Linked DNA regions of Homo sapiens: regions 1 and 3 are each reported to be linked to region 2. Evidence: microRNA targets listed by miRTarBase, many of them from high-throughput screens and not tested one by one. Region 2 holds a microRNA gene; each other region holds the end of a gene's coding sequence.

What was found. Region 2 holds the annotated microRNA hsa-miR-4731-5p (UGCUGGGGGCCACAUGAGUGUG, at 3,386-3,407, opposite strand). A microRNA usually pairs through its seed, bases 2 to 8, with sites in the 3' UTR of a target mRNA and lowers its output. Matches are read on the target gene's strand: a 7mer-m8 pairs with bases 2 to 8, a 7mer-A1 pairs with bases 2 to 7 and ends in A, and an 8mer does both.
Region 1: miRTarBase lists IGDCC3 as a target of hsa-miR-4731-5p. Seed matches in the 3' UTR shown: 8mer at 1,841-1,848, 7mer-A1 at 2,660-2,666 and 7mer-m8 at 2,871-2,877.
Region 3: the mRNA of USP15 is a reported target of hsa-miR-4731-5p. Seed matches in the 3' UTR shown: 7mer-A1 at 3,681-3,687 and 7mer-m8 at 6,163-6,169.

What each region holds. Positions count from the first base shown.
Region 1 is chr15:65,322,762-65,330,646 of GRCh38, reverse strand. IGDCC3 (immunoglobulin superfamily DCC subclass member 3) reads left to right here. Exons shown (of 14, transcript NM_004884.4): 10 at 1-97; 11 at 250-354; 12 at 783-921; 13 at 1,050-1,257; 14 at 1,499-3,520. The coding sequence ends at 1,738. Among named protein-coding and RNA genes, the nearest start is that of RNU5B-1, 22 kb to the right of the region's middle. RefSeq lists an enhancer at 4,269-4,812.
Region 2 is chr17:15,248,281-15,256,138 of GRCh38, forward strand. MIR4731 (microRNA 4731) reads right to left here and starts at 3,416; the gene lies at 3,347-3,416. The region is part of intron 3 of PMP22 (peripheral myelin protein 22); the gene reads right to left.
Region 3 is chr12:62,403,027-62,411,062 of GRCh38, forward strand. It overlaps USP15 (ubiquitin specific peptidase 15), which reads left to right. Exons shown (of 22, transcript NM_001252078.2): 22 at 1,167-8,036. The coding sequence ends at 1,349. Among named protein-coding and RNA genes, the nearest start is that of MON2, 60 kb to the right of the region's middle.

The sequences.
Region 1 (7,885 bases), not on the chromosome of region 2:
GGCTTCAAGCTGTTTTACCGCCCAGCAAGCAAGACCTCCTTCACCGGCCCCATCCTGCTGCCTGGAACCGTCTCCTCCTACAACCTCAGCCAGCTCGGTGAGGCAGACACAGCCCAGAGCCTAGGGGGCTTGGCAGAGTGCGGCGCTGAGGGCCAGGAGGTGGCGTACAGGGGTCACCTCCCTTTCCTGGCTAGGACAGGGCACGTGGTTGGGCAGGGGCAGTTGCTCATCCGCCCTGCCTTCCTCCAGACCCCACTGCAGTGTATGAGGTGAAGCTGCTCGCCTACAACCAGCATGGAGATGGCAATGCCACAGTCCGCTTTGTGTCTTTGAGGGGAGCATCTGAGAGGACAGGTGAGGGCTGGGGATGGAGTGCGGGGCTGAGTGGGTGGGAAGCCGGGAAAGTAATGGGGTGAGATAGCATGTGCCACGCTTGAAAACACAGGCTTAGACCACAGTTTGAAGCTTGGCCATGCACATGCTGGCTGTGTGACCTTGGTCAAGTTACTTAACCTCTCTGATCCCAGTTTTCTCTATAATACAGGGATAATAGTACCTACTTTACAAAGCTGTGGCAAGGATGAAATGGTCCATGCTATTCCTAGTATCTGGTAAAAAGAACCAAAAAGATTGGTCTGGAGTCCTGTAGGCAAAGTCAAAGGATGTTCCCACTCCCACTTGGGAGTGGGAGCAGCTGAAGGAAGAGGAGTCCCCAGAGGCTGGGTGTTTGGGAGTGCTTCAGACCTGGAGAGCCAAAGCCTCCAACCCGTCCCTGTCCCCAGCCTTGAGCCCACCATGTGACTGCCGGAAGGAGGAGGCCGCCAACCAGACGTCCACCACAGGCATCGTCATCGGCATCCACATCGGGGTCACTTGCATCATCTTCTGTGTCCTCTTCCTCCTGTTCGGCCAAAGGGGCAGGTGGGTCCTGGGCCAGGGAGAGGGGCTGGGCTGGTGTGTGGGGGACTAGGCCTAGAGAAGGTGAGTGTGGGCTCACTGCCTCTGTCTCTTTTCTCTCTCCCTCCCCCCAACTCTTGGCTAACCCTTAGGGTCCTCCTGTGTAAAGATGTGGAAAACCAGCTGTCCCCTCCACAGGGTCCCCGGAGCCAGAGGGACCCTGGCATTCTAGCCCTAAATGGGGCGAGACGGGGACAGCGGGGCCAGCTGGGCCGAGACGAGAAACGTGTGGATATGAAGGAGCTGGAGCAGCTGTTCCCCCCGGCCAGCGCAGCAGGGCAGCCGGACCCCAGACCCACAGTGAGTGCCCATGTCTTAAACAAACCCCCGCCTCAGGCTCTGACACTGCCACCTTCCAATCCTGCCCCCCTTCACCTTGGCCACGGGCCTCGATCATTGGCCTTAGTCAAACTGCAGGTCTTCTCTTTGTGTCCCTGAGTCAGGCAGGGAGACCTGGAGACCCTAAGGCCCAAGTGGGGTGAGTTGGAGCCTGGCGCCCTGGCCCTCAAGCTGACGCCTGTGTGACGGGCTCTTTCCCCAGCAGGATCCTGCAGCCCCCGCTCCGTGTGAGGAGACCCAGCTCTCCGTGCTGCCACTTCAGGGGTGCGGCCTGATGGAGGGGAAGACGACGGAGGCGAAGACCACAGAGGCCACGGCTCCCTGCGCCGGCCTGGCGGCTGCCCCACCACCCCCAGATGGAGGCCCTGGCCTCCTCAGTGAAGGCCAGGCTTCCAGGCCTGCAGCGGCCCGGGTTACCCAGCCAGCTCACTCGGAACAGTAGCCAGTGTCTGGCAGGCTCCAGAGGGTGGACGGAGCGGGGCCCATTCTCAGGTCAAAAGCAAGATTTCTACTGTCATGTGGGATTTGGATGGTCCTGGGGGCTCCCCAGCATTTCTATCCTGACTGCCTCTTGGGTTGTCAAAACCCAAGGCAGCCTTGACAGGGACCCCCCGGCCCTAACACCCATCAGGAGTTGGAGCAGTTCCTGCAGGAGCCTGTTCCTTCCCTGGGCTGACGCCCCCTTGCCTCTGCCTGGTACCCACATGACTTGGAACTGAACTAACATTTTTCTTTAAAAAGCAAAACTTAAAAAAAAAAAAAAAGAGGAGAGAGATAGAGGAAGGTGAATTAGACTCCAAAAGATGACCCTGCTGTAGCTGGGCCCTGACACTGTCACCCTCCACCGACTTTGTTTTCTCAGGATGGATTTTTGCTGTTTTGGCTCTCAGCACCTACCTCAGCCGGAATGAATGTCCTGGGGGGCAGTGGGGCGGTGGCCTCAGCCCCCTTACCCCACAGAGCCCGAATGCACTCCTACCTCAAGTCCCCTTGCTGGGGACCCCCTCTCCCTTCCCACACTGTTGTCCAGAGTAAAAAAAAAAAAAAAAAAAAAAGCACTTCCCCGTTTCCAGGTGTGAAAGAAAAAAAAAAGCACTTCCCCATTTCCAGATGTGAAAGAAAATGTCTACCTCAAGGCTCGCTGGCTCTGTGGGCTGTGTTGTCACTGGACCTGCCTCCCCGCCCCTCCTGCCCACAGCCCACCTACCTCTCCTGCAGAGGAGAGGCCAGAGGTTGGGCCACCAAGGGGAACTCTTGTGGCCTACAGAAATAGAAATGGATTGGGCAGAGAAAAAATGTGAAAGCAGCCAAAAATGAGAGGAAATTTGTTCCTTGAAGTATAAATTGTCCAAACGAGCCACCTCCCAGCACACCGCCTGTCCCCGTCTTGTCTGTCCACTCCCATTTTGAGCCAGCCCATCCTTGATGGGGATGCCCATGAGGAACCTGGGCTTGGGAGGGTGGCATCAGCTGGCCGCCTGCCTCCTGTCCTGCAGGCCCGGCCCCTGGAATGTACCATGTGTGGGATGGGTGTGTGGGAGGGTGAGGGGGTGTGGGTGTCCCCTGCAGAGGCGCCCCAGCCTCAGGCACCCAGCCAGCCTGATCCACCCCTCGACAGGGGAGCATCCACTGTCAGCAGCCATGGCCGGAAGCTATTTTTATACAAGGTGTGTTAAGGGTTATGTTCTTGTGACTTTTTGTTACTCTTTTCTGTTGTGTTGTTCTTTGAACTACTTAGTTAAAGAAGAAGAAAAGAAAACCAAGGAAACAAATACCTATTTTTGGTTATACTCAGAAACATTTTTTTAAATAGCAGAAGAAAAACTTTTTTTAAAGAAAAAAGATAAGTGTATTCCTTAAGAATGAGACCATAAATATCCCTGACCCCCAATCCTCTAGGGACACCTCCACCCTGAACTTTAGTTAATTAGCTGAAGAAGATAGAATTTGTGGTGTTTTCCTAGAAAACTAGAGCTGTGTCCGCGTGGACTTGGGGAAGGGTAGTCCCTTCCCTTCTCCCAAATGATGTGTGGATGCCCAGGGCTCCACAAAGCTCCAAGGCAGTGCCCCCTCTGTTCCCAAAGCAGCTTCTCTCGGGAGCCTCCCTCTCCCTTGGGAAGGGTGCGGCTGGGGCAGGAGGGGGCTGGGGGGCCACCTGGCCTTACTTGGGTTTTGTCACACTCTGCTCATTTTGACTGAATAAAAGTCCTGTTGCCAAAGTGAACCTGGAGTTTTTGGGTGGTTGTGTCAGGTCCTGGGGGAGGGGCTGCGGTGCTGGGTGGGCCAGGGCCCTCACAGGCCCAGAACCTGGGATAGTAACAGCAGACCCTATACACTACAGCTCTCTGCCACATGAGGTGCAGTTCCTGAGTCCTCACCCCTCCCTGTGACTAAGATATGCTAGTGACCGTCATCTCCATTTTATTTATTTTTTTGAGACAGTTTTTTACTCTGTTGCCAAGGCTGGAGTGCAATGGCACAATCTCAGCTCAACCACAACCTCTGCCTCCTGGGTTCAAGTAATTCTCCTGCCTCAGCCTCCTGAGTAGCTGGGATTACAGGAGTGCGCCACCACACCCAGCTAATTTTTGTATTTTTGGTAGAGACAAGGTTTCGCTATGTTAGCCAGGCTGGTCTCTAACTTCCGATCTCAAGCAATCTGCTCATCTCAGCCTCCCAAAGCGGTGAGATTACAGGCATGAGCCACCGTGCCTGGCTGGTCATCTCCATTTTATAGTTGATGAAACCAAGAAAAAAGAGGTGAAGGAAATGTCCACAATCCCACACAGGCAGTTGGTCAGTCTGATCCTCACACAGGATCCGAGTCTGTATCCAGGCCAGGCTGCCAGGTTCCAGGCTCTGCATTCTGACCACCGCCCCACCCCTCCTCGGCCAGCAGCGAGGCGGCTGCTCGCTCAGCCCGCCAAGGTTAAGCGCTCTCCAGGTGCTGGCCAGGCAGGGCTGTGTGCTTTTCACGCACTGTCTATGAGGAAGGACTGGTTTCCTCCCGGTTCTGAAGCTGAGGAAACAGGCTGTGACTGAGTGATTCCCTCCAGGGCACTCAGCCAGGACTCCGGCCAGGCCTCTCTGTTCTGCCATTGTCTCTCAGTCCAGGCTCCTGAAGCCAGTTGCCTGGAGCTGCTATGGCTTAGGTTCGAGAGAGGCTGGGCTTAATGGCAGTTATGCTGACAAAGATCCGAAGGTCTCAGCTGGCCTCAAGCTTAGTAAGAGGCAGCAGTATAATGCAGCTACTGCTGAATTTGAAAGCCTGGGTTCACACCCAGGAGGCTCAGCAGACCTGGAAAGCCAGGTTCTAAACCCAGGGGCACCTTTCGAGAGGAACGTACCAGGAGAGCAGTGGGTAAATTGGGCTCCCTGGCTATGGCTGGGGTGAGGGGGAGCTCTCTGGAGGGCCTCCTCACTCTCCCTACCCACCCTCACCCAGACCAGCTCAATATTTTTTCCCATATTTTTTCTGTCTTATTACATGTTGGCTTTTTTTTTTTTTTTTTTTTTTTTTAATTTGAGACAGAGTCTCACTTTGTCGCCCAGCCTGGAGTGCAGTAGTGCGATCTCGGCTAACTGCAACCTCCGCCTCCCAAGTTCAAGCAATTCTCCTGCCTCAGCCTCCCGAGTAGCTGGGATTATAGGCACCAACCACCATACCTGGCTAATGTTTTGTAGTTTTGGTAGAGACAGGGTTTTGCCTTGTTGGCCAGGCTGGTCTCAAACTCCTGACCTCAGGTGATCCACCTCCCTCAGCCTCCCAAAGTGCTGGGATTACAGGCGTGAGCCACTGTGCCGAGCCCATGTTGGATTCTTGATGAAATTTCACTTGAAAGCAGGATTGTGATCCTAAAAGAACATCTGAAGGTACCTGGCCAGGCACTTCCAGAAGAGGCCTGTGGATAGCTGGGCCCGAGGTCAGGTCAGGACCAGTGACGGTGCTAGGGATGCTGAACCAGGCAAGAGAGCGCTGAGGCCTATAGGGCGCCTATCCTGAATCTCCAGGGAGGTTGCTGACTTTCCCTGATTATCCCAGGAAAGAACTATCTCAAATATAGATATAAAACTCTTTCTTTACACGGCACTTTGCACACATAGATGTTTTAACAACTTCAGCCATCCAAGGGCAGCCTGGGGAGGTGATTGTTCAAGTCAACCCTGTGGGGTTGGGGGAGTAGACAAGTAACATCCAGTGCCCCTGTCCCTTCTAAGAGTCCCAGATGGGAGGTGTCTGGAAATGTTTAGAAACCACAAAATGGGCCAGGCGCAGTGGCTCACGCCTATAATTCCAGCACCTTGGGAGGTCAAGGTGGGCAGATCACCTGAGGTCAGGAATTCGAGACCAGCCTGGCCAACATGGAGAAACCCCCGTCTCTACTAAAACTACAAAAATTAGCCAGGCGTGGTAGTGCATGCCTGCAATCCCAGCTACTCGGGAGGCTGAGGCAGTAGAACTGCTTGAATCGGGGAGGCAGAGGCTGCAGTGAGCTGAGATCATGCCACTGCACTCCAGCCTGGGTGACAGAACGAGACTCTGTCTCAAAAAAAAACAAAACAACAACAACAAAAAACCCCACGAAAATAAGGCTGGGTGCAGTGGCTCACGCGTATAATCCCAGCATTTTGGGAGGCCGAGGCGGGTGATCACCTGAGGTCAGGAGTTCAAGACCAGCCTGGCCAACATGGGGAAACCCCATCTCTATTAAAAAATACAAAAATTACCCAGGCATGGTGGTGCCTGCCTGTAATCCCAGCTACTCGGGAGGCTGAGGTGGGAGAGTTGCTTAAACCTGGGAGGTGGAGGTTGCAGTGAGCCGAGATCACGACACTTCACTTCAGCCTGGGCAACAGAGCAAGACTCTGTCAAAAAAAAAAATAAAAATCCACCAAAATATGATCATGCAGATATATGCAAATTGTATACAAAACACAAACAAATGTAGGCAGGGCCTGCCCTAACCATCACAAGTCTCAGCCAGGCTTGGGTAGATGACAGAGCAGGGTTCCAGTGAGGAAGGTTAGCAGAAATAGGTGTCAAAGCTGAGTGGCCTGACTGGAATCCAGGTCCTGAGATCTCAAATAGCCCAGAGGCCTCAGGCTGAAGAACCCCGTCAAACCTCACTGTCCCCCACAAACTATCTTTGGGCAGAAATCTGCCACAACCAAGGCTGCAACCTGTTCCAATCATCTAAGGCTCTGTAACAAACAACCCTAAACCTTTTTTTTTTCTTTGAGACGGAGTCTTTCTCTGTCACCCAGGCTGTAGTGCAATGGCATGATTTCTGCTCATTGCAACCTCTGCCTCCCGGGTTCAAGCAATTCTTGTGCCTCAGCCTCCCGAGTAACTGGGATTACAGGCCCACACCACCACACCAGGCTAATTTTTTGTATTTTTAGTAGAGATGCGCTTTTGCCATGTTGCCCAGGCTGGTCTGGAACTTCTGAGCTCAGATAATCTGCCTGCCTCGGCCTTCCAAAATGCTGGGATTACAGGCGTAAGACATCACGCCTGGCAATTTTTTTTTTTTTTTTTTGAGACCAAGTCTCACCCTGTCACCCAGGTTGGAGTGCAGTGGCGTGATCTCCACTCACTGCAACCTCCCCCTCCCAGGTTCAAGCGATTCTCCTGCCTCAGCCTTCTGAGTAGCTGGGATTATAAGCACCACCATGCCCAGATAATTTTTTGTATTTTTAGTAGAGACGGGGTCTCACTGTTTTAGCCAGGATGGTCTCGATCTCCTGACCTCGTGATCCACCTGCCTCGGCCTCCCAAGGTGCTGGGATTACAGGTATGAGCCACCATGCCCGGCCTTTTTTTTTTTTTTTTTTTTTTTTTTTTAAGAGACAGGGTCTCACTGTGTTGCCCAGGCTGGAGTGCCGTCAAACCTTGGTGGTTTCACATCACATTTATTTGGCTTACAAATATGCAGTCTGGGCAGGGCTCAGGGGCAGCTGTCTCTGCTCCACTCTGCATCAGCGTGGGCAGCTTGAAGCCTGGGGGCTGGGATCCCCTGAAGGCTCCCTCCCTCCCGCGTCTGGTGGCTGATGCTGGCTGTGAGCCCAGCACCTCCACATGGCCTCTCCGTGTGGCCTGGGCTTCCTCACAGCATAGTGGCTGGGTTCCAAAGACAAGCGTCCTGAGAGAGAGAGCCAGGTGGAAACTGCAACATCATTTCTACGCCGGCCCAAGTGACACAGCATCACTTCTGCTATAGTCAGCTCTTTAGAACAAGTCGCTAAGGCAAGCCACATTCAGGGAATTCAAGGGGAATTAAAGTCTTCTTTTCAATGGAGAGTCAAAGAATGTATGGACTGTTTTAAAATGACCACAGGGGCCGGGTGCAGTGGCTCACCCGCCGGGGAGAATTACTTGAGCCCAGGAGGTGAAAGTAGCAGTGAGCCGAGATCATGCCACTGCACTCCAGCTTGGACTATAGAGTGAGACTCCATCTCAAATAAATAGATAAATAAATAAATAAAATGACCACAGGGCCACTCCGGAGGGACAGGTGGGGAACAAATATGAGCCAGGAGGCAGGGAGGGGAGGAAAGCTTTACCCCATGGCCCTGGGACTGTGCATGA
Region 2 (7,858 bases):
GGCGGCTCTCTCAACAGGTAATCCTGGGGGTATTTTAGCTAGAGCAAAGCCTGTGTCTGGCCACTAGTGGGCACAAACTGCTCAGTAAGTGGAAGGAATCTTCATGTCAAGGTATTCCAGCTAACTTTGATACAGTTATTCAATGAACTGCATTCCTAATTAAGAGGCTTTGTGGCAGGCACAGAGCTAGTTTGTCAGGGTCTAGTTCTGCACTTTGACATCCATATTCTTGCTCTGCTAGTGAGTTTTTGGACTTCTAAAGGGAATAACACGCAGCCACTGAGGTACCTGAGGTTACTGGATAATAGTAAGCTGTCTGAGGCTTTTTTATACCCTTGTTGGAAAACTCTAGAAACAGGGAAACAGAGTAGGCTTTGTTTCTCTAAGAATTGCTCTTGGAAGACTTACTCCACCAGATACAAAAGAAAAAGGAGGGGAGTGCATTGTACGATGAAGGATATCAATCTCCCTCCTTGGTAATTCACAATGTACCATGAATGATCAAAGCCTGCTTAACTTTCAAAACTTAGTGTCTTTCAAACGGATTTATCAGGAGACTTGTTTTTGTTTTTGTTTTTTAAAAGAAGAGCTCACTTAAAAACACTGAGTTTGGCCATAGAAAATGACGGGAAAGGCAGTTGCAATTGCAGTCATGAACTGCATCAGTGGAGAATGAACAGGGAATAATTCGCTTAGTTTTAAGATCTTCAGGTTTAGGAGGAATTCTCCCCATAGAAATAATAGAGTTCTCCTCCTTCTTTCCCCTAAAGTATGAAAAAAGAACACGCATTATGGAAATGAAGAGCTAGAACAAAAGAGCTGCTACCCCCACCAGTGACAGTAAACCAATGCCCGTTTACAAGCACAAAACCCATCTCTGCTCCCTCTGCCTACTGCAATTCTACCCCATTGCCAAGGCCCAGCTCAGAGGCCACCTCCTTTTAGGATCCCTCGATGCCACAATTACATCCTGAACATGAACAGAGGCTCCGGGACCCATGCAATGTGCAGGTCCTACCTCAACTTCAGGTCCTACCTCAATGCCTGCTCTGCTTTTAGGAAACCAGGGTACCTGCCCCAGGTTACCTAATTTGTTACAGGCAGACCCGGTGCAGAAAAACAAGGATTCCCTGATGCCCAGACTACTAGTTTTTCCACTACAACACACTGGGGGTGCAGAGAAGTCAATGATATGCTTGCAATCTAATGAATTAAATTATTCTACCACCATTCTTCAGACTTAGAATCCACAAAAACTAGAGAGGGTGGAAGGAGAATGGTGTGGCAAAGAGAGAGCGGCTTCCCTTATTCTCTGCTCATCAGCCTGCCAAGCCAAACCACTGACCAAACTTCAGAAGGGCAAGAAGAGGCCCTGCTTATGCAGCTGGGACCAGCACCAGAGAAGCCACTGAAAGAAGGAAGGAAAGAAAAACTGCAATCGTCAACTGTTTGAAGAGTCATCGTGTAGAGGAGAGACGGGGGTCACCCTGCAGTCATTGTCCAGGAGGCACTGTGGAGATTTAAATTCTTTAAGGACGTGCCAAGCAACTTGATAAAACCCAAGTCCAGCACATCAGGCATGAATGAAGGCAACTAGAAGTGAATGGACAAAAGAGGGGCAGTGTTGGGTTTAACAAGGTAATTTCTTTTTTTGAGACGGAGTCTCACTCTGTCGCTCAGGCTGGCGTGCAGTGGTGCGATCTCGGCTCACTGCAAGCTCCGCCTCCCGGGTTCACGCCATTCTCCTGCCTCAGCCTCCCGAGTAGCTGGGACTACAGGCACCGGCCACCACGCCCGGCTAATTTTGTTTTGTATTTTTAGTAGAGACAGGGTTTCACCGTGTTAGCCAGGATGGTCTCAATCTCCTGACCTTGTAATCCGCCCGCCTCAGCCTCCCAAAGTGCTGGGATTATAGGCGTGAGCCACCGCGCCCAGCCGAGGTAATTTCTTAAGTGACAATATCTCCTGGCATTCCTCCCTCATCACTGGCTGTTCATCCCCAGTCTCCTCTCCTTCCTGTACCCTCGTTAACCCCTGGCATGCCCAAGACTTAGCTCTGAACCCTGTTCCCCTTTTCTGCCTTCTGCTCTCAACTCCTCCCCAAGTAACTGTATTCAGCACCACAACATTGAATACCCTTCGGTATAGAGGAATGACTCTTGACTTTGAATTTCCAGCCCAGACCTCTCCCCTAAGCCAAAGACTTCTAAATTGAAGTGATTTGCTGACCTCTCTGATGGTCAAAATATAAATCCTGATTTCTACACCTTCCCGCAAATCTTCTGTTCCTCCTCCAGTCTCCCCATCTCAGTCCAAGATTCAGTTACACACCAGTTGCTCAAGCCCAAAACGTAGAGTCATCTAGAATCATTCTTCCCTAACTCCCTACATCTAACCCATCAGCAAACCCTGTCATGAGACCTGTTTTCTTCTCTACTTCCCCTCCCTAGCTAAGCCACCAGCTACCTCCTAGAGTTCTTGTGAGGATTAAATGCATTGCTTTTCAAAGAATGCCTGGCACTTACGTGAGCTGTTTGTATTCTTAACATCATTGTCATTGTCATCATTGTCATCTCAGTGTCATCATCATGTCCAGTCTGGACTATGACCACAAACTCCTCACTGGTCCCCAGTTTCCACTCTTGCCTCTCCCCAGAATTCATTCTCAACAGCCAGAATGAGCTTACAAAACATGAATCAAATCATGACACTCTTCTGCTTAAAACCCTTCAATGATGTCCCAACTGTCCTTCTCAGTACCACAGCCTGTGAGGCACCAGCGATCCTGCTCCCATCCCTCTCTCCCGCATTCCCCACCCTCCTTTCTTCAGCTAACTCAGGGCCTTGGTTCTTCCCTTTACCTCCTAGAATTTTCTTCCCATGGTTCTTCCTATAACTGGTCCTTCCCTGTCTTCTAAATCTCAGACCACATCACTATGGAAGGAAGAGGCCTTCCCTGAGCAGCTCATTCCTCCAGTGATGACTTTCCATTGGATCACCCTATTTGTTTCCTGCAGAGCATGTTCCACTACCCATAGTGATGCATGTATTGTGTATTGCCTGTTTCCTCCAACTCCTTGTGAGCTGCACAATGGCAGGGACCTGCTCTTTCTTGTTCATCTCTGTGCACCCCATTTCTAGAACAGTGCCCAGTACATAGGACAGGCTCAATAGAGTTGAAGAACACATGAATGGATCTCACTATTAGCTCTTCAAAAACAAAAGAGGCTCTCTTGAAGGTAATAAGTTCCCCATCAGTGGTAGGATGAACATGTGGTAGGCATATTGCAGAGGGGTCTGTGGCTCGATGGGATAGGAAGGAGGGATGGGCCAGATGACTCCGGGTCCCTGCCAGTGTTGGGGGCCACTTGTGTGTGGATGACTGCACACTCATGTGGCCCCCAGCACTGGCAGGGACCTGACCACAGTCAGAAGGCTTCATCCCAGACAGCCTTCTCTCGGGCACCAAAGATCAACATCCACAACCTCAGGCTGCACCATGGCCAGTCCCTGCTCCTGAAATGCAAGGGATGTTTTCTTGGTGCTGGTGAAATCTTGGGGATACAATTGAAGTTTTTTTAAAGCAAAGACTATAGATTCCAGGTCATACAGTTCAGACACAGGTTCAAACAAACATTTCATACTAATTCCTGGGTATTGGCATCAGAGAAACCCTAAGGGTTGAAATCCTGGCATGTTGACAACACATTCCGTCCTCTGTACCTCCCTTGTACCACCAGGGTCTCAGCATCTCATAAGAGCCTGTAAAATCCAGAGCCATTCCTTGGGTAGAGATTATGGGTTGGCTGAGGGAGCCACGAAGATTTTAAAATGTAAAACATGAACCCATAAATGCAGAAGGTCTCCCGTGTTTTCTAAAATCTGGCCAAAAGCTGAGCCACAGACAAGGAAATTGTCTGGTGTCCTTGCCAAAATGACAGTGTCACCAAATTGATAAACAAGTCTGGGATCGTTTTGAAGACAGCGATGATAGGAGACCACCAAGGGCTCAGGTTGGGGGCTGCTGAGACTGGCAAGATTTAGTTTCTCTAATTTTCAACCCAAAGCATTGATCTAATTCCTCACACAACCTATTGATAGTCATGAGTTTGCTGTTGCTGCTGCTGCTGCTGCTGCTGCTGCTGCTGCTGCTGTTTAAATGGAAAAGAAGAGTAGTAAGTGGTCATCTTCTCAGCGTCTGGTGCTGGTCCCGCCCACACACTGTGGCAGAGCAGACCCACCTGTTGTCACTGGGAAATGAGGGGCTGCAGGTACTGCCCTTAGACAATGGAGGTGGCCAAGGACGTTTGGGGACAGATTACAGGAAAGCTCAACAATTCCCTTCATGCTTTGGTGTTGAGCACTGGCCTCCTTTTTAAAAACAAAAGTGATTCAAAAAGGGGCACATTTTTTGTGCCTAACACCTCAGCATGAAAAAGTTTATCAACTACCTTTTCTTCTGAGACAAGAGAGGACTTTGTGAGCAGGGACAGGCCCTGAGAGACAGATTTTACTGAAGACAAACTGCCTGGGTCCTGCCTCATCACTGAAGCTGATGAAGACCAGCCAGGGGCCAGGGCAAGCCAGGACTGTGCCCTTCTAGCTCTTGGGCTCCCAAGCCGCCTGTGGCTTAATTCCAGTATTCTGACCCATTCTGCTACACGTCAGGTCCACACAAATTAAACAAAAAGCAGGGGAATGCTTGTGAGAACTTGGACTTGATATTTGGATCTTGGAGACTTCAAAACAAAAAGCACTGGTTCATTCAATAGCAGGGCAAATGTTTTGCCTGAATCCTTTGGGTCAGTAGATTTTAAACTCACCCATAGGGTCTTGGGGAGGAGGCTTGGCACACCCCTCCCCCTCACCAGAGCCTTCCAGATTGTATGAGTTTGCAAACTAAAGCTCCAGGAACTGGCCTCATTCAAAGCGACGCCATGGACCCTGCGTGCCATGCCCCAGGGCTCCACTCTCTTAATCAAGGCAGAGGGAACCTACTTACTACTCAAAACCAATTTTCTAACATAAAATGTTCACAGTTATTTTCTGATTGTGAAAATAAAAGATCTCAATGAGGAAAACAGGTAAGGCAGCAAAAGAAAGAAAACAGCCAAAGTGATAAGAATCCCGTCACCCAAAATAATCACTGAAAATATACCGATGCATTTCTACCTTGTACAATTTCTGATATATTCTGCCTTATAGAGGCTTCTGGACTGTCACTCCAACTTGGAATCAAATGGACCACTGAGAAACCCGTGGAAGACAGCAGGTCTAAGGAAATCACAAAGATTAGAAATGCATCCATGTGCACCCAACTCCTTCCTAGTGGGGGTGGGGGGTACCTTTGAGATGGTCTGTGATTCTACTTACCCCTCACTCTCTGTTCCCACTAGTCTGCCCTGCCCTCTGTCCCTCAACTACGCCAAGCTCCTTCCCTCCCCAGCGATCTTGCACTTGACGGTCCTTCTGTATGGAACCTCCCCGAGATGTTCATATGGCTGGCTCCTGGCCACTCCTCAAGGAGACCTTCCTTCACCACTGCAATCCCTCTTTATCCCATTACCCTGTCTTATATAGTTCTTACCATTGCCCCCAAATTCTCCATGTTTACTGACTGGTTTGTCCAGTAAAACATAAGCTCTTGTTCACTCTTGTAACCTTAGCACCTGCAATAGTCTCTGGTACACGAGAGTTGTTCAAGAAATAGTCCTGCATGAAAGATCAGAAGAGAAATGGAGAGACTCCCGAAGTGGGAAGTTCACATTTCAGGACGTGAGAAAACGCTGAAATTCCAAGATGAGGGGAAGAGAGATGGGAGGTGAGACTTAACAGAAGCAGGAGTGGATCATTCAGGTAGATTCCGATGGGCCTTGTTAAAGATTTTCATCTGAAGATTAAGACCAATGAACGGCCTCTGAAAGGTTTCAAAATGAGGAGTGATATAATTAGGTTTGTGCTTTTTTAAATATCAGCCTGGATTCCATATGAAAAATGAGTCACAGAGGAGCAAGAAAGGGTTCAGGCAAACTAGTTAGGAGGCTGCCCTGGCGCCTCTGACAAACGAGGAAGCAGCGTGACCACAGGTGGGCAACAGGCATTGGAACAATGGGGTGGCCTGAGGGACCCGTGACAATGCTGAGAAGAGAAAGAAGGAAACGCGTCAAGTCAAGGCAGACTCTAGATGTTTGGCTTGCTGGCTGGTGAAGCAGCATTCACTAAAATACTAGAAAGTGACAGAGGGGTTGAATTGGCAGAGGAAGATAAGGACTGTCTCTGGCCTAGTGACTTGGGGGCCTCTCTTAGATATCCCAAGGGAAGTGGCCAGGAGACAGCTGGATAAACAGGTCTGGGATTCAGAAGAGAGGTCTGGACTCATTAAATAATAATAAGATGGCCAGGCATGGTGGCTCACGCTTGTAATCTCAGCACTTTGGGAGGCTGAGGCAGGTGGATCACCTGAGGTCGGGAGTTCGAGACCAGCCTGACCAACATGGAGAAAGCCCGTCTCTACTAAAAATACAAAAAATTAGCCAAGCGTGGTGGCGCATGCCTGTAATCCCAGCTACCCGGGAGGCTGAGGCAGGAGAATTGCTTGAACCCGGGAAGCGGAGGTTGCAGTGAGCCAAGATGGCGCCACTGAACTCCAGCCTGGGCAACAAGAGTGAAACTCTGTCTCAATAATAATAATAAGACTTACTTATACCTGGAGAGGTGGTAGAAATAGAGAGAGAGAAGCCTCAACAGGTCCTAAAGTTTCTGAGAAGAGCCCATGTGAGAATGGTGGGGTGGCTGACAGAGCCCAGGATGCAGCAGAGATGGACTCTTTGAAGAATGCTGAAATAACTGGGACTTATGGAACTGCATAGGGCCCAACTGAGCTATTGCAAAAGAGTATGATTGGGTATGGGAGGGGATGGTCAAACCCTCAAGGAAAGTATTCCACACCAGGCTTACAGAGAGGTATTTGCTGCCAGGTTTCTATGATTTGAAAAGCCATGCTTCCCCCAAGGCCGAATGACTATATTTCTCAGCCTCTCTTGTAAATAGGTGTAGGTGTGACCATGTCACATTTCATTAAAAGAAAAGGAGATTCATTCTTCCCCACCTCCTTTCTCCACCCTACTGCTTGAATCATGGATGAGATGGCTGGAGCTCTAGCAGCCTTTTGTTTCCTGAAGATGACAGCCAAACCCAAGAGATGGCAAAGAAATGAGCTAGAAAGTGTCTGCATCTCTGACAATTTCATGGAACCTCCATACCTCTCTCAGGCTACCTACTTCCAGACTTCTTTGAAAAGAGAGAAAAATAAATGATCTTACTTAAGCCCCTATCATTTGAAGATGTTCTCTTATACACAATCAATCCTAATCCTAACCAGAACACTAGCCAACCAGTCTACCCCATCCCCTGCCTTGTTCTACCCTTACCTTAGGTCACAGGGAATATTCTCCTCCCCGTTGCCTGTATTGACTTAAATCCTGCCCATCCTTTGGAGGATGGATCAGATTCTACCTCCCACCAGAGATTTCCCATCCGCTTCCTCCCTGAACTCAGACGCTGTCTGCCTGCCTCCCTTTGGGCACCTGGCCTGCTCTGCCTTCCAAGGGAGTGATTCACCCTTCCATATCTATCTCCTGACTCTTCGACCAGGCTCGGGACCATCAAGGCAAGGCCCATGCATTCCAGATCCTTGTATTCCCTGGGCCGGAGAGGCACTGGATACAATATCATAACGAATATCCCCACACTAAGCCTCTCTTACCTCTGCCCACACGAGGCAGATAAGGAGGGGGTGCCAGAAAGTATACAAACACATTTAGAAAAACGAGAAGGCAGGCGGAGTCAAAGTCAGTTA
Region 3 (8,036 bases), not on the chromosome of region 2:
GTTTAAGATGACTTTTACTTCACCATTCACCAAGATTGGGAATATAGGAAGAATAGTTGCTGTTGAAGTTTGAGATGCCTGTATGATAGCTGTGTGGAAATTTCCATTAGGTTGTTGGACTCATAAGACAGGAGTTCAGGGGTGAGAACTGATTTAGGTTATACATTTGAGTTGTCAGCCTCAGGCAGCAGTTGAAGCCATAGGTTTAAATGAGTCACCTAGTGAGAGGATTCAGGTTGAGACAATGGTGGGCTGAGGACAGAACATAGTATGTTTAAAGGTCAGGATTTAATAAGTCCACAGAAGAGCCTGAGAAGAAACCAAAGAGATAGTAGGAGATCTGAGTAGTGTTGTCACAGAAGCAAAAAATTGTTTGTTGATAGGAAAAGAAATAGTGAAGCATTAAATGCTACTGAGAGATTGACCAAAAGAACTGGAAAGGTCACCCATTTCAGTTGTTTATTAGGTTATTGACCCTGCTGAAAGCCATTTTGCTAGAATGGTTTGGGGAAAAGCTAGATTACTTTGAGTTGAGAAGTGTGCATGAGAGTGAATGATGAGTATTGACAACTCTGTTTATCACCCTGACTATGAGGAAGAGGAAGAGAGGTATATGGCAGCTAGAAGGGGAAGTAGAATGGAGAGGGACTTATGATAGGAAAAACCTTAGGTATTTTTTAATGCCAAAGAGACAAGTCCAGTGGATAAGGACTCATTGAAGATACACAGTGATGATTGATGGAACAGCATCCTTAAGATGGTAGGAAAAGTTGGACTCTACAGCAAACATGGGATGAAGTGACTAGTATTAGAAGGGAGGAATTTACCTTTTCCTTAAGAGATGGTAGGAAAGAAAGCATAGAATTCTATTTTTACGTTAGAATTGTGATACAGTTTGTGTATCACAGTTAGAACTGTGATACAGTTGCATTTATTTCTTTGTCCAAATAATTTAGAAGCACATAAAAATTTGTAATTCTAATAACGATTCTTTATTAGAAATCATCTTATATTTAATGAATTTTAGTAACTTCCATTTGACCATGCATGGTTTTTCTATTTGATTTATGCCCTCTTACCAAAATTGGTGACCAGCTAAAAATTCATAATGTATTTAACGTGATCTTTGAGAATCATAACTGTTTTAACATCCTTTGTTTTGACAGTCCAAAGCAGCATATGTACTCTTCTACCAGAGACAAGACACTTTCAGTGGAACTGGCTTTTTTCCTCTTGACCGAGAAACTAAAGGTGCTTCAGCTGCCACTGGCATCCCATTAGAAAGTGATGAAGATAGCAATGATAATGACAATGATATAGAAAATGAAAACTGTATGCACACTAACTAATGAAAGTCCTAGAAGCCATAAAAGAGACACTTTCCTGCTGGTGGTATCTATGGAAATGATGAAGTTACCCACCACATTAAAACAAAAGTCTGAGATGGGGAGTTTCAGATAACCGAATGTAAATCCTTTATCAGATTTTAACTTGTGCAGTACTTGAAGTGAAACACAATGAAAACTTTAACAGAAATTGTCTCTTAATACATTTACAGTCTTGTATTTACAAGCTAAATATATATAGGAAATCACAAATAAATCCCTTTTAAGTTTGCTGCTGTTTTGATTAATTATGTTTCCTTTAATTTTTTGGATGTGAGTTGATGACAAATGTTAAATTTGTGGATGTTGGTCATTTATTTTGCTCTAATAATACTGCAAGAAAACTATGGCTGAACTTAGTTTTTGGATAATCTAGTTCATGTGCATTAGGCTGCCGTATATACTACTATGATATTTAGCTGCAGTATCAATGTGGCATAAATACTGCGGCAGCATTCTTCGAAAACCGCATTTTCAAATTTATCCCCGTAATCAATGTGGGCCTATTAAAAAACCAAATCATGATACAAGAAACAACCTTGGAAAAGTTATTTCCCTTTGTAATACCTTTAAAAATCCAGAGTATTATATTCATTTTACTGCCACTGTGGAAACAGGTTCTAGATTTCATACTCCATCTAAAGTCATTTTTCAGTTACATGTAAGTATTATTTACTGCTATTGGGATCTATTCTTCAGATATTCAAAAACATTTTTTGCTTTAAAATGCATATCTTTAATTGGGTGTTGGTCCAAAATTAAAATTTTTGCTGTCTGTTTTTCTCTACCCCATTTTGTGGTAATTTGGCAACTTGAGCTCTCCCAATTATTGTAATATAAGGACAGACATAATAGTATTCTGTACCCATAGTAATAATTGCATCAAGCTTAGATGAGAAATTTTTTTCATATACTGGCCTTTAAATCATTAATGGACAATTGGCTATAAAGGTAGGTCTGTTAACTTTCTTTGTGTGTTCCTGATGGAATTCACCATAGCCTTACAGCTTTTCTCAGAAGGTAACTTGTTATAAGAGAAATGGCATTTGCATGTTCCAGAGTCAGAACCTGTACAGTATATAAAGCATAAACACCTTGAATTTGATTTTAGTTCACCACATTCAAGGATCCAGGATGCCAAAAATATGTGTGAACATTTGAAACATTTTTATTTGCTGCTTTTTCCCTTTGATATAGTTGAAAGAATGTATTGTAAATTGGCATACAATACTGCCTTTAATAGAAAACCTAAATGCTGGGGCACATTTCACATATCGACTACCTGAGAAATTGCTTTGTGTCCCACTGTTATTAAAGCAAAAAGTATAATGTTCTTCACTTGAACTAATCAAATACAATAGATTATAAATTGTGTATTGTAAATAAAAGTTCACTCTGTGAGTGCACATTTTGGTAAATTATTTATTTATGTTAGCATTTAAAAGTTTAAAAAAAATGCATTTGACCAGGATAAATGAGGTATGTTGATCATGGCTTTGCTTTATATCTTGATATTAAAGCTGGTTTATCATCCTGGTATTTTAAAAGCTGCTTTGGGGTTTTTTTTTTCTTTTTTTTTTTTTTAATGTAAACTAACCTCCTGCATGACAGAGGTTAAAATTTTGTCTGCACTTGAGTTCACTTGAGTTTACATTTGAAATGTGCATGTTTATTTATATAGATTTCAATAAAGCTATTCAAGGCCTTATTTAGTCTTTTATTTCTTACTCTTAATCTTTTAATAAAAATCCCCTACTTTATGGTTAGATGACTATATGCTAGACTTTTTAGTTATAAATAGTTAATACTAGAAAGGAAATTATGTCAGAGCAAAATGAATCCTACTATTAAGGACGTTTTAAAGTTGATTTTTGTCCACTTTAATATTTATTCATTAAACATATGTTTGTGTACCAATCACTGTTGTAGAGTCTGGAGATACAGCAGTAAACAAATATCCTTACCTTCACAGAGCTTACATTCTTTCTGCCATCTACCAACTAATGAACTATATTTCCATTTTTCTGAAGATTTAAAGAAAAGTCAAAGCTAAATCTTTTAAACCTATATTGTGGTCTCCATCCTAATTCTTCAGAGACCACTTTCTTTTTAATGCCTGTCATTAACTTCTGTTCCCACTAAAAGAAGTGATGTTAATAATGCCATTGAAACTGCCAAACTCAAATGTCATTTTTCAGCTGCAAGAAGTATACTTTAAAAATAGTGCAAAAGGATAATACATATTCTAATTAAAAGTAGGCATTCAGACTGGGCACGGTGGTTCATGCCTGTAATCCCAGCACTTTGGGAGACTCAGGCGGGAGGATCACTTGAGCCCAGGAGTTTGAGACCAGCCTGAGTAACATAGTGAGAACCTCATCTGTACAAATATATGTATTTTTTTTTAATTAGCTGGGTGTGCACACACCTGTGTTCCCAGCTACTGGGGAGGCTGAGGTGAGAGAATTGCTTGAGCCCAGGCAGTCAAGGCCGCAGTTAGCCGAAATCACACCCCTGCACTCCAGCCTGTGCAACATAGCAAGACTCTGTCTCAAAAAAAAAAAAGATATTCATAGGTAATACAGGGTAATGGGAATATATCTAGACTAGAATTTCTACTTCTAGCTTTGCCACTTAGCAATCATATGACTTTGAACTTAATCTTTGATAGTGTTTCTTTACCTGTAGAATAATGATGATAATAGCCAGCATTTATTGAGCACTTACTATGGACCAGGCACTATATTAAAGTGTTTATATGCATTCTCTCATTTAATCCCACAACAGCTATGAGGTAGGGATAGTTGTCATCCCCATTTTTCATATGAAGAAACCAAGATACAAAGCATTTAAGTAATATTCCCAAGCTCACACAATTGCTATGGGGTAGAGCCAATATTCTATCCTCAGATATATACTACCTCTCACTGTGTTATAGTGTCTGCCTCATAGGATTGTTGAGAGCTCAAATGAGATCATGTATTTTATGGGAAGAGCTTTGTAAACTTTATTACACACTCACTGATTTCTTCAGTCTAAATAGAAAGACATCTTGAAGTCTAATAACTTTGCTTCTAAAAGTATATTTAGCTCAGTATTCGAGCATTGAATAAGAAAGTACCCACTGGAATATTGACTAACCCATTCCCTTTTAAAAATTAATTTCATTTAATTTATATACCTTTATTACAATTTTAATTAAATGGTAAATACAATGTGACATTTTTTTCTTACCTTTTCATCTAACTTGTGTCCCCTTCTTTCCATTTCCCCAAATGCAACCCTGAATTTCAGGACTTTGTAAACTCTACTCTAGTTTTGCTTTCTGTTTGTTTGTTTGTTTGTTTAGAGACAAGGTCTCCCTCTGTCGCCCAGGCTGGAGTGCAGTGACATAATCATAGTTCACTGTAACCTTGAACTCCTGGGTTAAAGTGATCCTCCTGCCTCAGCCTTATAATTTAGTTTTAATTAACCTCCTTGAAAAAGTTGCAGCCTGGTGCTTTATTTAAATATCTTGCTTTCTCATAATCTGTGTTATTTTAGTAGTCCTGTATTTATCCTTGCTTTCCTGACAACTGGATATAAAACTACACAAAACATTGATTTGGGCACAAAGAAAATCAGTAAGTACCAAAATAGATACAACATAAAGGTGGTGGGGTTTTTTATGAACTAATTTGATTGAAGTGAGTTTATCTTATAAAATAAGCCGGGAGACTGAAATGGAGTCTCCTTCAGTGGTACACCAAAGGGAGTGTAGGGTGTAGTAGGAGCTCTCTGCCTCCGAGAGGAGGAATATATTAGACTGATAACGTTTAAGTCTGATGTATGGTGACAAGAAAAAGGCCAATTTTTTGTTTTGTTATTTTTAAGTTACCTACAGATAATGCATTTCATTATTGCCTACTTCCAACTCTCCCTATGTAGTATGTTTCTGATCTTCTGTGCTTGTGCAGTGTAGATGAGCTCACCGCTTTAATTTTTAAGATAGAAATGTGGAAAACTCTTGAATCATAGACTAGGGGAAGGAACCAGAGGTCCTCTAAAATATCAGAGGAGTGAGAAGGAAAGGAAGAGCTCCTTTCTAGGGCCATAGAATAAGAGTAGAAGTTTTTGCTCATTTTTTTTGTTTGTTTTTACTTTACAAAAAAATAAAAAATTTTTTGCTCTTTGAATAACTTAACATGAGGAATTTGGAAACAACCTCTCTTGAAAATATATTGGTATTCATTCCCAAATAATTCTTCTAAGTACCACTTGACCAGAGGATAGGGAAAGGAGGAAAAGGTGAGTGTATTTATATCCTTGCTAGTTTTTGTTATATATTCAGTTGCAGATCTATATTATATATCATTTTATTATCAGATTTTCTAGTGAGAAATATATATGATGGTTTTTTAATAATCATTTTAGGTTTGGAGGCCATTTCAATTCAATATGTATGTGTTTTACGTGTTTAATTCGTATTTACTATATATTAAAAGAATTTCCAAATAGCTCAGATAAGAAAACTTTGGTTTAAAATTGAGTTATTTTATAAGCTACATAGAATACATCAAAATTTTATAAGCTGCATAGAATAGGCTTTAAAATATCAGAATTAGGAAAATAAAATATAGATGGTAAAAATTCAAATATTTATCAAGACTTTTTTCTTCACTAATGATGGGGTAAAGAATTTTTAAATGGATAATATAAAACAGACAGTTCAAAAATTATTTTTGGAAAATATATGCATCGGGAAACATACCCCACACGGTGCCATGGTTTAATTATTCCCCAGCTCTACTTTTGGGAGCCTGGAACTTGTCAGGGTTGTGAAATAGATCTCAGACTATTAAGGACATTCAGAAACTGGCTAAGCCATTCAAGGAAAATCAGGAATTTACGTAATATATTGGACTACAGTCTCAAAGGACAGAGAGAAAATCAGTCAAATGGGTTTTGATATTTTTTTTTCCTAGAAATGTGTAGCAAATGTGATTTTACAAAGCAGCTAAAAATACAACTATCTCTCTGGAATTGAAAATGTGTAAAATAAGACCACACACTTTCAATATGCACAAAATATATTTTAAATGTTTAAGTTGTATTGGTAATTTACTATGTTCTCCTGTAGAAAATCATAATTAAAGTTGGTGCTCGTGTTGCTAAAGTTTTTTTTCTCATGTCAGGAACTTGCAGCTTGTTCTATATAGTTTGGTGAAACAAACAAAACAGTTTTTATCTGCTGTGACATTTAAGTTTGTTGTTAGCTGGAGTTAAATCTACATACATAAAAGTAAAACAATAAATATGGAAACATCCCAACAGTCTTTCCCACAATGTGTATTATTACATTATTCTCAGTAATGACACATACTTAACATTTCCCAAGCTGTTGTTTTAAACCTTAAACATCACCACATTTCTAATTTTTATTTAAAATCTTTCAGAATTCTTAGATTTTGTAACATATCAAGCACAAGTCTCTCATTAAAATTTTTTTTTAATAGTATTTGCTTTTCTTTTAAACTCCATAAAGGAGTATTCGATGTTAACAGACGTAACTCTTTAATGCTCCTCTGTTCATGATTAAGTATGCTAAGTTTTAAGTAATTTAGACTAATGTATTAAAGTGTTCACTTATGTCTAGTCATATGCATACCTACTCTCTTCTAACCTTGAGTCATTTCTATTAAATACAGCATTTAATCTTCTTTCAAGTGAGAACCATCTTTCCATTATATCAAGTGGGCAATATTTAAATTGTCTGATAAGTTCATCCAAATTAATCCCATCATGCCTGTTTAACTCATTTCCCCAAAAAGACCGCGACCTCCAGCCAGTCATTCAGTTCTTGAACTCCCTAATAGAAGCACCAAGGATTATCTATTTGTAATCACATTGTGGTGAATTATCAGTCTCCCAAGAATTATGTAAAGCAAATAGGAATTATTTTAGAGTTGCCCTTATTTTAAAAAACAAAAAAAAAGTAAAGATGGGAAAATTACTTATAGTATTTTTTTTTAATTTGAGAAAGAATTCCTGTAGGTCTCCCTTAAATAGTGACTTTGGTAAAGCTTTTTAATTTCTAGAACTCAGAGCTATATTCACTTTTGAGCTATGTACCTATTGTATAAGTTGAAGTAATACTGCAAATTCAAACAGTAAACATCATTAATCCTAGATATTTGGGTACTACCTACAGTGAGATATGGTAGGAAACATTCTACACTTACAACAACTTCCACCATAGCTAGCTCCAAACAGGTCATTAACCTCTGAATTACTGTTTTCACAACCATAAAATTATGCTGGTCTCTTGAAAGTATTAGTTTATGGGTGTGGAGAGGAAGGCTTAAATTTCATTTTTGAAGCTGTCGTTAAAAGTATATATTTTTAGCAAAGGAATTAATAACTAATAGCATTGATGAGTCAAGTTAATATTTGTTTTTGTTTTTTTTTTTTTTTAATTTTGGGCCTCACTCCTATAAAAGACTTGGAACAGAAGTCTTAGTATGATGGTAAACTTGAAAATTAAAATTTTATCAGGGATATTAGAATCCAATTATATGAGACTGCATCCTCAACAGGCACCTTGGTTGCAACACCATGAAAGACCTTGATCCAGAGGTTCTCAGCAAGCCACACCTGAATTCCTAACCCACA